Regions from separate parts of the Homo sapiens genome. Here regions 1, 2 and 4 are each reported to be linked to region 3. Evidence: microRNA targets listed by miRTarBase, many of them from high-throughput screens and not tested one by one. Region 3 holds a microRNA gene; each other region holds the end of a gene's coding sequence.
The links. The annotated mature microRNA hsa-miR-6778-3p reads UGCCUCCCUGACAUUCCACAG and lies in region 3 at 1,487-1,507, shown strand. An mRNA with a match to its seed (bases 2 to 7 or 8) in the 3' UTR can be bound and repressed. Matches are read on the target gene's strand: a 7mer-m8 pairs with bases 2 to 8, a 7mer-A1 pairs with bases 2 to 7 and ends in A, and an 8mer does both.

Region 1: the mRNA of GMPS is a reported target of hsa-miR-6778-3p. The part of its 3' UTR that is shown has no 7-base or 8-base seed match.
Region 2: miRTarBase lists EID2B as a target of hsa-miR-6778-3p. Seed matches in the 3' UTR shown: 7mer-m8 at 1,354-1,360, 7mer-m8 at 1,488-1,494 and 7mer-m8 at 1,520-1,526.
Region 4: miRTarBase lists PGM2L1 as a target of hsa-miR-6778-3p. Seed matches in the 3' UTR shown: 7mer-m8 at 1,895-1,901, 7mer-m8 at 2,028-2,034 and 7mer-m8 at 2,246-2,252.

Annotation. Positions count from the first base shown.
Region 1 is chr3:155,937,261-155,940,391 of GRCh38, reverse strand. GMPS (guanine monophosphate synthase) reads right to left here. Exons shown (of 16, transcript NM_003875.3): 16 at 1-2,801. The coding sequence ends at 2,700. Among named protein-coding and RNA genes, the nearest start is that of GMPS, 68 kb to the right of the region's middle.
Region 2 is chr19:39,529,657-39,532,785 of GRCh38, reverse strand. It overlaps EID2B (EP300 interacting inhibitor of differentiation 2B), which reads left to right. Exons shown (of 1, transcript NM_152361.3): 1 at 1-1,799. The coding sequence ends at 469. Among named protein-coding and RNA genes, the nearest start is that of EID2B, 1.6 kb to the left of the region's middle.
Region 3 is chr17:18,339,190-18,342,320 of GRCh38, reverse strand. MIR6778 (microRNA 6778) reads left to right here and starts at 1,435; the gene lies at 1,435-1,507. It overlaps SHMT1 (serine hydroxymethyltransferase 1), which reads left to right. Exons shown (of 12, transcript NM_004169.5): 6 at 1,508-1,589; 7 at 2,066-2,278.
Region 4 is chr11:74,334,143-74,337,273 of GRCh38, reverse strand. It overlaps PGM2L1 (phosphoglucomutase 2 like 1), which reads left to right. Exons shown (of 14, transcript NM_173582.6): 14 at 520-3,131. The coding sequence ends at 622. The region is part of intron 2 of LOC112268078 (a long non-coding RNA gene); the gene reads right to left. Among named protein-coding and RNA genes, the nearest start is that of P4HA3, 24 kb to the right of the region's middle.

The sequences.
Region 1 (3,131 bases), not on the chromosome of region 3:
AGGTTAGAAAACAGTGTAACCCTATCTCCTGGATATATCTACAGACTTGTATTTAGGAATTATGCCAGGCTGTTATTTCTAACAGAGCTGATGATCATAGATGTGGCCTTTAAGGCAGGACTGGGTATTTGGTTCTTAAAAATGATTCTGTGCCTGCCAATCTTAGGAATAAATAATGCTTTCAATGATCTACATTCTCTGTCTACCTAAAAAGTACAAAGAAAAAGAATATATTTAATCAAAGAGAGATGTGTCCCAGGTAGATGGTAAGCAACGGGAATAAAGTCATGATATGCCCAGAATAACCAATGATGAATGTTATTAGCCAGGTAGCCACCATTCTAGTCTTAGTAAAATAAGCATCCCATAAATGTTTATATAATTTTAGGTGTCAGAATACACATCAGGACAATCTGGACTAAGGAAACCTGAAATTTAATTCTGAAATTAATTAAGTAACCATGCCTAAGGTGAGCTTGTTTTCTTAACTGTAAAATGGAAGTGCAACCTTTAACTTTCCTCAGTGGCTCAGATGAAATACTGTGAAGGTACAGAGTAATGCTATATGGCACAAAGCAAAAAGTGCTGTGCAAAAGAAGACAGTGTGCTAAATATTAGGAAATTTCTGAGTTCCAGAAAATTTGGATTTTTAAGAAACTATGTCATGTCAAGATGTGCTTTGGAGTAACAATTTTCCCAATATTATATTAAGTATATACTAAGTATATATTAGAAGGGATTATATAAAAGGTGTTCAAAAAACAAATATCAGGAAAACACTAATTTAAGCAGAATTTAACAATTGTTTTTAACTTCAGAATTTCTCAGAGCTTTGAATATTATATACCATGAATCTCCAGGAAAGGACAAGTGAGCTTATGTTCCCCAAACTTATATGACCACCTAATCCTTTTTACATGGACCTTCTCAGTGGAGCAGTGTTCCATAGAACACACATTCTTACTCTCTATTTTTCCAAAATTCCTACTGTTTGCTTCAATACAAAATCATAAGACACTGTGGCTAGAAATTTTTTTTCATATAAACATAAACGTGTACTGACACATGTTGGTAAGCATTTTATAGGTTGTCTATTCTAGCTTTCAAATAACATGACTCTAAATCTGTAAAGACCAGATCACTAACATAGCCTCTTTCCAGAAGGCCATAATGAGTACCTCCTCATCAGATAGAGAATGTACCCTTTAAGTTTTGTAGGAGTCAAGTACCCCTTTGTCTTGGGGACAGATTTCTGTTAAGACAGACAGAAACTCTTCCCTTGCTGGTCCAGCAGCAGTTTTCTTGTTCCCTGGACCAGCCAGAATAAAAAGATGACTTCTGCCACGCATCATTTTGTTGTTTGTCTAACACTGAATCCCAAATAAAATTTCATTCCTGATTAATAGATCTGACCTTTTAAACTAGACAAGCAGCAGCAACCTGAGATGGAATTGTTAAGAGAAAAATATGGTAACATTCTTAGCTAAAATACTGAGAGAAACGGAGAGTTTAAGTCTACTACTGTCTACAGTACTTATGTGAATGTTATAAAAGATCTGTTAGAAACTGGTGGTGATGGCAACAAGTCCTACACCAGTTCTTAAATCCTCTCTTATAGCTAGTAGAAAGGATTACAAAGTTTGGCAAACATCTTGCATGTATCAAGACTGTTCACAGGTGTCTGAGCAATGAATAATATGTCTATAGATTAGATTTAAAAGCTCATTTTACAACTGTTTACTAGATGATATAAACATTTTTCCTCTCCCTTTTGTAAGCTGTAGGTATGCATCATAGCTTCTGTGATCTCAGAACCGTTTCTCTGACCAGCAAAAGAAGAGATGAAAATGCTCCTCTTGACCTCTATCTGCACTACACCAGAAACGTCATTGAGCCAGTTTCTTCTAAGGAGATAACAGAAACTTTCTATGCAAGGCTGTGGGGGGCTGGTAATATAAGGCTAGGAGGATAAAGCTCCTTACTAATAAACAAGCTGACATTGAATAACATGGCATCTATGTGGAACATGGTTTGAAAACATTTTAAGACCATTCATAGACATCTGAGACCACTCATAGTTTCTTCCTCCCAAGGCTGTGAAATAAAATTCAAAAGTACATCAACAAATTCCTGGTGCTTTTCCATCTTATGGTAGCTTACATTTTATACCCTCAGTGTCCTTCAAAAGTGGCTGGAATAGCCCACCTATACCTTTATCTGATATGTTCATCTCTTTTTCACCCTTTGGAGAAATAAGATTACTTATAAGAAAACTGATTCTCCAAAAAGTATATATAAGTAGTAAGTAACACTGGTAAATAATGGGCGTTTCTAACAGTTCTTAGAAACTGGTAAGGAGACAGAAGCCCATAATTACCCCCAAATTCACCCACCTTCATACATATTCACAGAGACATCAACAGTGAATTTATACATAAAGAATAAGTGAGGCAAAGGCAAAAGCAGTATCAATCTGTCTGAGTGTAGGCAATGGTGCTTTGATTATTTACCCGTACAAACTCTTCAGTCCCTTTTGGTTATCCCCAACTCAGCTCTTAAGCCGTAGATTTTTGCTGTGGAGAACTCAGATGTGATGTAGCTGCTCCAGTAACTCTTTTCACAGTACTGCATGTCAATAATGGGAATGATTTCTAATCAATTTAAACTGCACACGGTACTTTAATAGAACAAGAAGTTTATTACTCCCACTCAGTAGTTCCTGGGGGCTTTGATGTTAAGTCATACATAATTCGAGAAATACCAGGAATCTTCTTAATCTCAGTGACCATCTTTAATACCACCTATTAAAAAAAATTATAGAGAAAAGTCAGCATCCACTGCATGTCCAGCAGTCCTAGAGGGCTTACATTTGTAATTTGAAATTAAAATTTGACTATTTTCACTATTGTCCTCCATGTATATGGGATGGTTTCTGATTAATCTTATATAATGAACCTATTCCCCTCTGCAGGGATAGGTGTAAGTTATTAAGGTTTAAAATATTAGTGACTTAAACTCAGTACTACTCAAAGTGTGATCCACAAACAGGTGCTAGTCTGCAAGTTGTGTTTGTGACTGAGCCACAAGTGCTTAAGAACATATAGCGATTTGACATTGCTGTGGCATCCAAG
Region 2 (3,129 bases), not on the chromosome of region 3:
GCTGTTGGAGATGTCCGAGCTCCCCGGAGATAGCAGTGTCCCACAGGTGGGCACCGCGAGTGGCGTCAGCGACGTACTGCGGGGGGCAGTCGGCGGCGGGGTTCGGGTGCAGGAGGCTCGGGAAGGCCCAGTGGCCGAAGCTGCGCGGTCCATGGCGCGGATGCCGGGCCCTGTGCCCGGGCCCATCCCCAGCAGCGTCCCGGGCCTGGCCTCCGCGCCAGACCCCCATCAGCAGCTCGCTTTCTTAGAAATTAACCGGCAGCTGTTGTTCCGCGAGTATCTGGATGGTAGCTCCATGATTCCGGTCAGATTACTACGGGATTTCGAGGAACGCCGCAGGCTGTTTGTGGAAGGCTGCAAGGCGAGGGAAGCAGCCTTTGACGCGGATCCCCCGCAGATGGACTTCGCTGCTGTCGCGTTTACGGTAGCGCTGACTGCCTCCGAGGCCCTCAGTCCTCTGGCCGACTGAGTCGGCTGTGATGATGACATTGGTGGCAAGGAATAGCCAAGTGACCCTTTTGGGATCAAAAGAACAGGCAGGCTGTGCCAGTTTAGTTAACTCAGTCATTAGGGGGAATGCAAACTGGAAGGGAATACGGCAATGTGCAATTGAAGGAGGAAGCACACTCCGAAATGGAAACAGACAAGACTGTTGAATCTTGTTTTCTTTCTTCTTTTTTAGTATTATTTAAATAGAGAAGGGAGTCTCGCATCCCTAGGCTGGTCCCGAACGCTTGGACCCGAGCGATCCTCCCGCTTCGGCCTCCCAAAGTGCTGGGATTACTTTACAGGCGTGAGCCACCGCGCCCGGCCGAATCTTGTTTTCAAACAGGTCCCAAGACACTTCTGACTTAGCACTTTGTTAGCAATGCATTTTCCTGCATTTGTGAAGAATCCTTCATGACTTTCACCATAAAGGATGGTTTTGCAAAGATATGAGAAAAAAAAAATGCCAATAACAGAACCCATAGAAATGAACCTAAGTGATGAAAGAAAACAAAGAAATAGAGTTGTCAGGAATCCAGGTGTACCTGAGTTACTAGGATTGGAAGGCTATTGAGAGGACTTTGAAATTTCACAATTTGTGGTCATGTCAACAAATCCTAGTGTAAGATTCATATTTGTGTTTTCTGAGGTACTTTAGATGAACAGTAAATATTCAATAGAAAAAACCACGTATTATATGATCAGTGTTTTCAAGTCTATGTGAAATTGGGTAGGTGTGGAATAAACTTGTTTTTTGTTAATTTTAAGCTTTTTATTTTATTCTAGAATATGTATTCTATTCACAAGACTCAACAAAAAAAAGTATCGGCCGGGCGCACTGGCTTACGCCTGTAATCCCAGCACTTTGGGAGGCCACGGCGGGTGGATCACCTGAGGTCAGGAATTCAAGACCACCCTGGCCAACATGGTGAAACCCCATCTCTACGAAAAATAAAAAATTAACTGGGTGTGGTGGCACGCGCTTGTAGTCCCAGCTACTCGGGAGGCTGAGGCAGGAGAATCACTTGAACCTGGGAGGCGGAGGTTGCAGTAAGCCGAGATCACGCCACTGCACTCCAGCCTGGTCAACAGAGTGGGACTCCGTCTCAAAAAAAAGAAAAAAAGTATCAAAAGATGCTGTGAGAAATCTCTCTTGTTGCTGTCCTTTGCCAAACTCAGAACTATTCCATGCAGGTGCCATTGCTTGTGGCTTGGAGTTTTGTTGTTGTTTTCTTGGTTTTGCTTGTTTTTTGCTTTTTCACTGTACGCCTTTCAGGTTTTCTAATGCATATGCAAATAAACATCAATCTAAATATTGTGCATTTTCCCTTTTAATATCAAGGTAGTTAACTTGCATCACGAGGTATAAATTTTTAAAAATATAAAATCAAGGTAACATATTGTATACCTCTATCAGCATCTTGGGTTTTTTCAGTTATATATGGAGAGATTTATATATCAGGGTTTTTTTTTTCTTTTTTTATATATAGAAACAGAGATGGGGCCTCATTATGTTTTCTAGGCTTGTCTCCAACTCTTGGCTTCAACTGTTCCTCCTGCCTCGGCTTCCCAAAGTACTAAGTGCTGGGCGTGAGCTACTCCACTGGGCGTTTTTTTTTTTACAACTACAATGTAAAGCCTTATCTTAGTATAATGAACTAGACACCTTTTGGACATCTGGGTTGTTTGCAAAATGTTTTAACATTTTCTATGCATTTATACGTGTTTACTCGTTTTCCATAATACACTGTTTTTTTTTTTTCTTTTTGAAACAGAGTCTTGCTCTGTCACCCAGGCTGGAGTGCAGTGGTGCAATCTCAGCTCACTGCAATCTCTGCCTCCTGGGTTCAAGTGATTCTCCTGCCTCAGCCTCTGGAGTACCTGGAACTACAGGCACGTGCCACCATGCCCGGCTAATTTTTTGTATTTTTAGTAGAGAAAGGGTTTCACCGGTTAGCCAGGATGGTCTCGATCTCCTGACCTCAAGATCTGCCTGCCTCAGCCTCCCAAAGTGTTGGGATTATAGGTTTGAGCCACCGCACCCAGCCACCTTATTTTTTGTTTGTTTTTGTTTTTTTTCTGAGACGGAGTCTCACTCTGTCGCCTGAACTGGAGTGCAGTGGCACCATCTCAGCTGACTGCAACCTCCACTTCCCGGGTTCAAGCTATTCTGCCTCAGCCTCCGAGTAGCTGGGACTACAGGTGCACCACTGTGCCCAGCTAATTTTTGTATTTTTTTAGAGAAAGGGTTTCACCATGTTGGCCAGGCTAGTCTCGAACTCCTGACCTCGTGATCCACCTGCCTCAGCCTCCCAAAGTGCTGAGATTACAGGCGTGAGCCACCGCACCCGGCCCCACCTTGGTATTTTTAATGTGTCACCAGAGTGCTGTCCTTGGGGCTCAACCAGTTTACCTTCCATTCAGCCAGGGATAGTTGTGCCTCTCGCCACGGCCTGGCTAATCTGACAGCTTTGGAAGCATCTGACAGTAAAAGATGGTTTCTCACTATGGTTTTAATTTGAATTTCTCTAATTACGAGTGAGGACGCATGTTTTCAAATGCTTAAGAGCCATTTGTTTTCATTTCTCAGCGAACTATCTGTCCATATTCTTATTTTTTATTGGCTTGTAAGTTATGTGTCAG
Region 3 (3,131 bases):
ATCATGCAGTATTTGTCTGTCTGAGCCTGGCGTATTTCACTTAGCATAAGGTCCTCCAAGTTCATCGGTGTTGTTGCAAATGACAGAATTTCTTTTTTCAGACTGATTATTATTACATTGTTTATATATATATGTGTCACATTTCCTTTGTCCATTCATCTGTTGATGGACATGGCTTTATTCCATAACTTGGCTATTGTGAATAGTGCTGCAGTGAACATGGGAGTGCACATGTCTCTTTGACATACTGATTTCAAGTTCTTAAGATATAGATTCACAAGTGGGATTGCTGAATATGGAATTGATTTGTGTGGGTGAGGCGGGCATCCAGATAACATTTTTGTCCAAATGGATGCCCAGTTGACCTAGTGCCATTGATTGAAAAGGTCATCCTCTCCCCACTGCACTGCAGCGTCACCACTGGCATGGATCCAATGACCTGTGTTGTGTGTGGTTCTGCTTCTGGTTAAGCCAGATGCTCTGCCCTTCCATGAATGCGTGCTGCCTTAATTACTATAATTTGTCAAGCATTTTGTGACACAAAATACACAACGCAATGATGTTTTGTGTAAAGGTTTGGTATGATTTTCCTTTTATGGTTTTTGTTATTTACATTTCATTTTCTATCTTTCTTGCTTTTATATACTTTTTGGCTTTTTTTTTTTTTTTTTTTCAGATGGAGTCTCGCTCTGTTGCCCAGGCTGGAGTGCTGGAGTGCAGTGGCACAATCTCGGCTCACTGCAAGCTCCACCTCCCGGGTTCACGCCATTCTCCTGCCTCAGCCTCCCAAGTAGCTGGGATTACAGGCGCCCGCCACCATATCTGGCTAATTTTTTGCATTTTTAGTAGAGACGGGGTTTCACCGTGTTAGCCAGGATGGTCTCGATCTCCTGACCTCATGATCTGCCCGTCTCAGCCTCCCAAAGTGCTGGGATTACAGGTGTGAGCCACCGCGCCCAGCCCCTACTTCTTGTTTTTCAATGTTGTATCCAGTGACCTTGCTAAATTTGCTTATTCTAACAGTTGGCCCCTAGCATCTTGATTTTCTAGGTATATTGTGTTGTCTGTGTGTAATGTCAGTTTTTAAATTTCTTCTTTCCTAATCGTTATGCCTTTTGTTTCTTTTTCTTGCCTCATTATACTTGGAATAGAAGTAGTATTAGCAGGCATTTTGGTCTTGTTCCTGAAGGTAACCATTTTGGTTTCCATTGTGTGGTCCCGTCACATTTGTTTCATTCTGCAGGTGCTTTTTGGTTCCTTCTCAGCAGGTAGTGCCCCAGCAGCAGGGCTCACTACAACCCTGGGACTCCTCAGGGACTCCTGGGTCTGTGAGCCATACTTGGTTGAGCAGGCTGAACACACCAGTATCCATCCTGTCTCACCCTCAAGTCCTCATCTAGGACATCATTCCTCTTGTCATGGTGGGTGGAGCCAGTTCAAGTGGGAGGACAGGAGGCAGGTGTGGTTGGAGGAAGCAGCCTGAACCTGCCTCCCTGACATTCCACAGGTGAACCCAGATACTGGCTACATCAACTATGACCAGCTGGAGGAGAACGCACGCCTCTTCCACCCGAAGCTGATCATCGCAGGTGATGCGCGGGGCGGAAAGTCACCTTGTTCACCAGTAGCCTGGTGCCTCTTACAGAATGAGGATGGAAAGATGTTCGCACCCTGTTGAGCCCACTGCTAGTTTCTGCCCTGGATAACTGAGTTTCTGGGGTCTACATATATTAGTTTCTTTCAGGATACAGATGTGTGTTTGCTGCTTTTTGTGCTATGTAGATTAAGATGTGAGACTGTTCTCAGAGAAGCATCTAGAAATGTCAGGCCCTGACTGCGCTGGCAATAGTAGTTGGGGCCATCTCAACCACCAAGACGTTGAAGAGTTAGAGTGGTTGCCTTTAGCACAGAGGTGCTTTTTGAGGGCATTCTCCATTTTTGCTCTGAGACTTTAAGGGAAGAAATCTCTGGGCTTTCAGATCTGCACATCTAGAGGCCACTGTGAAGCCAACTCAGCTGGCCGGTGGACATCTCTGATGCAGCTGTGTCACCTTTCCTGTCTCAGGAACCAGCTGCTACTCCCGAAACCTGGAATATGCCCGGCTACGGAAGATTGCAGATGAGAACGGGGCGTATCTCATGGCGGACATGGCTCACATCAGCGGGCTGGTGGCGGCTGGCGTGGTGCCCTCCCCATTTGAACACTGCCATGTGGTGACCACCACCACTCACAAGACCCTGCGAGGCTGCCGAGCTGGCATGATCTTCTACAGGAAAGGTGAGCTCCCGAATGTTGGGTACAGATGGGTACCATGGTTTACATTTCTCCTGTGGGGGTTCAGATTCAGTTGAGGGAGCTGGGAAAAACTCTGACCTGGGATCCTTGGAAAATATTAAGATCCCAGTCCCTTAAAGAGCTGCTTAGGAAGGAGCAGTGACAGGCTTTACAGAAAGGATTCCCGGCCAGGTGAGGTGGCTCGCGCCTGTAATCCCAGCACTTTGGGAGGCCGAAGCGGGCAGATCACGAGGTCAGGAGATCAAGACCATCCTGGCTAACACGGTGAAACCCCGTCTCTACTAAAAACACGAAAAATTAGCCGAGTGTGGTGGTGGGCACCTGTAGTCCCAGCTACTCAGGAGGCGAAGGCAGGAGAATGGCGTGAGCCTGGGAGGTGGAGCTTGCAGTGAGCTGAGATTGTGCCACTGTACTCCAGCCTGGGCGACAGAGCGAGATGCCGTCTCAAAAAAAAAAAAAGAAAGAAAGAAAGGAATCCCCAGAAGGAGACTGTCAGCCACAGCTCCTGCTTCACTTTTGTGCATCCAGGTCCTAGGAACATAGGAGGGGGATCAGCAACCACTATGTGTTAGGATGGCGCCGGTTGCTGAACTCGAGAGGCAGGTGTTTGAATGAAAGGAGGGTGCATGGCTGGCTGGGGGCCACTGGGAGGCCTCACAAGGCTGCATTATTCTGGTGAACTTACAGTGATCCATCATGTTTCTCAAAGAGAAAGACTCATAGTAGTCAAACTAGAAGACATGGATGTATAAACATTAATATCATTTTAGTGAAGGTTTTTCTTTCCATTACCTCATAACCTACCCCTAGGCACTCCCCTTATTTTCGAATTCCC
Region 4 (3,131 bases), not on the chromosome of region 3:
AGAGGCTTGCCTCGAAATGTTCTGGGCAACGGCAGCACCTCAGTGATGACTTTCAAGGGCCTTCTTTTAAGTGCACATTTATTTTTTTAAACATCACGTTATTTTAGTCACACCTCCTTCTGCTACCTGAAAGATATATCATTCCATAACATCTGTACTGAATATTTTTCAAAGTATTTCAGGAAGCCATTTTCTCCTAACACCTGGTATTTGTGTTCAAAGCCATTAGAACCTCATTCTCCTGACCCAGGAGAATTCTTTAGATACACCATCACTCCTCTGTTTATCATGTGCCAAGGAACTCCTATTAATGCAGTTCACCTTCAGTTTGTGATAGCAGTGTTTTCTTTGTGTGTAATTTTTTTTTTTGGTCTTGTTTTGTTTTAACCAAGTGAATTTCTCTTTTGTTTACCAATTGTTTAATGACTCCATCAGGACCTCTTAAAAAATCACACTAATTTAAATAAATTTTAAGCCTATGAAAATAAATAATTCCAAAACTCTTCATCTTTTCCTCAGTGACACTGCTTTACTGGAGGAAGAACTGAAGAAACTCATTGATGCTCTGATAGAGAATTTTCTTCAGCCTAGTAAGAATGGACTGATCTGGCGTTCTGTTTAGGGGTACACCAATATGTCATGACACTGTGTGGGCATATGGAACAGAGCAACCGAGAACTGCATACATTGAACCTTGTGTTAGCATTCTCTCTCTATCTCATCTGGCCGAGTATCTTTTTCCTTTTATTTTCTTTCTTTTTGGTCAACTGGCTAGACTAAACAAAGTATAAGTTTGAAATGAAATGGTCTAGAGGGAAATGATTCAAATTTTTTCATAATTCAAACAAAAGTTATTACACTAAAAGTATTATAGTAACGTATTGTCCTTCCGTTAACAGAAACATCACAATTCAAAAGTGAGTTTTCTTATTATAGTGTGATTAAGCCTAGTTCTGTATCTCGTAATTGTGTATAGCATGGTAAAAGAAAAAAAAAAAGACAGGTAAATGTTATATAATTGTAGGGTTAGTTAAGGAAATTAGTCCATAAAATTGGCAAGAAAATGGTACTTTCCTTGATTGTTATGAAAAAGTGTCATTGTGACATCACAGGTATTAATTTACAAATTAGAGTATTTGAAATAGGATATTTAGCATTTCTGTAGTTTAGAACAGATGTTACAGTGTGTGGTTTTGGCATGTCTGTTTCAGGTGCCCTTGGTGCAGTATAAATTTACTGTATGTATTTAAAATTCTGATGTTTACTGAACATAAAACAATAGTGGCAACACTCCTATTGGCTTTGTTCTTATCAAATTTCTCAGTGCCTTCTCAGGGTCTGGTGTGAACAGAAAAAACAGTGTTCCTGCATTTACCATAATTTAATCAGTCAATTTGCAGATAGCTAAGGAAAATCTTCCAAAATCTGTAGGTGCTTCCTCTATATCAAGTGAGTTTGCTGATTTTAAAATCTTAGGAATATAAATAAAGATCTTAATAAAAGCAAGCTTAATGTAGTTAAGGATCTTCATATTAGAATTGTGTCATTTATCAAACCTTTTATTACAGAAAAAAATCTGAACTGAGAAAGGAGCTCTGAATTTATTTGACAGTCTAACTTTTGAATTACATTTTTGTAAGTAGATTTATTCTTTTATTTTATGAAGTAATGTTAATTTTACTAAGAATAAAACATCCAAATTTTAAGTATTATGAAATACTAAAACTACATGTTTTAAAACAGAGGTCCAGTTTATTCTAACATCTTGCTGACTTCTGTAGAATTTCTGATTGCATGACTATTATTTATCTTCTTTTAGTGTAGAAAATAATTTTTTACAAAAAGTCACTTTTGGGCTGGGCGCAGTGGCTCACGCCTGTAATCCCAGCACTTTGGGAGGCTGAGGCAGGTGGATCACAATGTCAGGAGTTTGAGACTAGCCTGGCCAATATGGTGAAACCCTGTCTCTACTAAAAATACAAAAATTAGCCGGGTGTGGTGGTGGGCACCTGTAGTCCCAGCTACTCGGGAGGCTGAGGCAGGAGAATTGCTTGAACCTAGGAGGCTGAGATTGCAGTGAGCCGAAATCACGCCACTACACTCCAGCCTGGGCAACAGAGGGAGACTCCATCTCAAAAAAAAAAAAAGTCACTTTTGGCTAATCATGCAGTCTTCTGAAAAGGTTTAATAGAGAAATGCTGTTTAGGCTGGGCTTGGTGGCTCACATCTGTAATACCAGCGCTTTGGGAGGCTGAGGCAGGAGGATTGCTTGAGGCCAGGAGTTTAAGTTACAGAACTATGATCACACTGCCGCACTGAAGCCTGGATGACAGAGTGAGACCTTATCTCAAAAAAAAAAAAAAAAAGAGAGAGAGAGAGAAAAAGAAATGCTGTGTTTAATCTTCTTAAAATGTATCTTGTCCTACATAGTTCTCAGAATACATATGGGGTATAGTTAGGAGATAACAATAACAAGACCTAAACAAATTGCTTATGGGAGATAGCACTGTAATTAGAGAATTTATTTCATATAAAATAATAATATAAAGTTTGAACTGATTAGAATGTTCCTTAAATCATGGTTTCGTTTGTTGCAGCTGTCAGCTAACATTTGGTTGAGCTCATATAATCCAAACCTAATTGTCCAACTATTGTATTGCCACTATTGTTAATTTGTTCCTTCCTTACTTTCTTATTGTTGGATCTTATATGACTGTATGACTGTAGATAATAGACAGCTAGCTAAATGTAGAGCACCATTTTTCTCAATGAGTTTGTTTTCAAAGGCTTTGCACTGGAGAAGATATGTGTAGAATTTTTGTTTTATTTTTAAAATGTGTAAAACATCTTTTGTTTTATATGCTTTTAAGAATGTAGATTGTAATTTAGGAAATGGCATATATTCTGCAAAGTGGTATAATGTTGTATATATGAAAAACAGGTATATTTGGTTTAGTTCTGTGTTTCAGTGACTGATAAACAAAAATGAAGCTAAAATGAATCAACGGCTCATTCATAGTTACTAAAGCCATGTCATGACTGTCATTCTATTATGAAGAAAACAGTTTTATTTGAGTGCTTTAATATAATGCAACATTTAAGTCATCTTAAGGTGAAAAGTTATTGAAGTG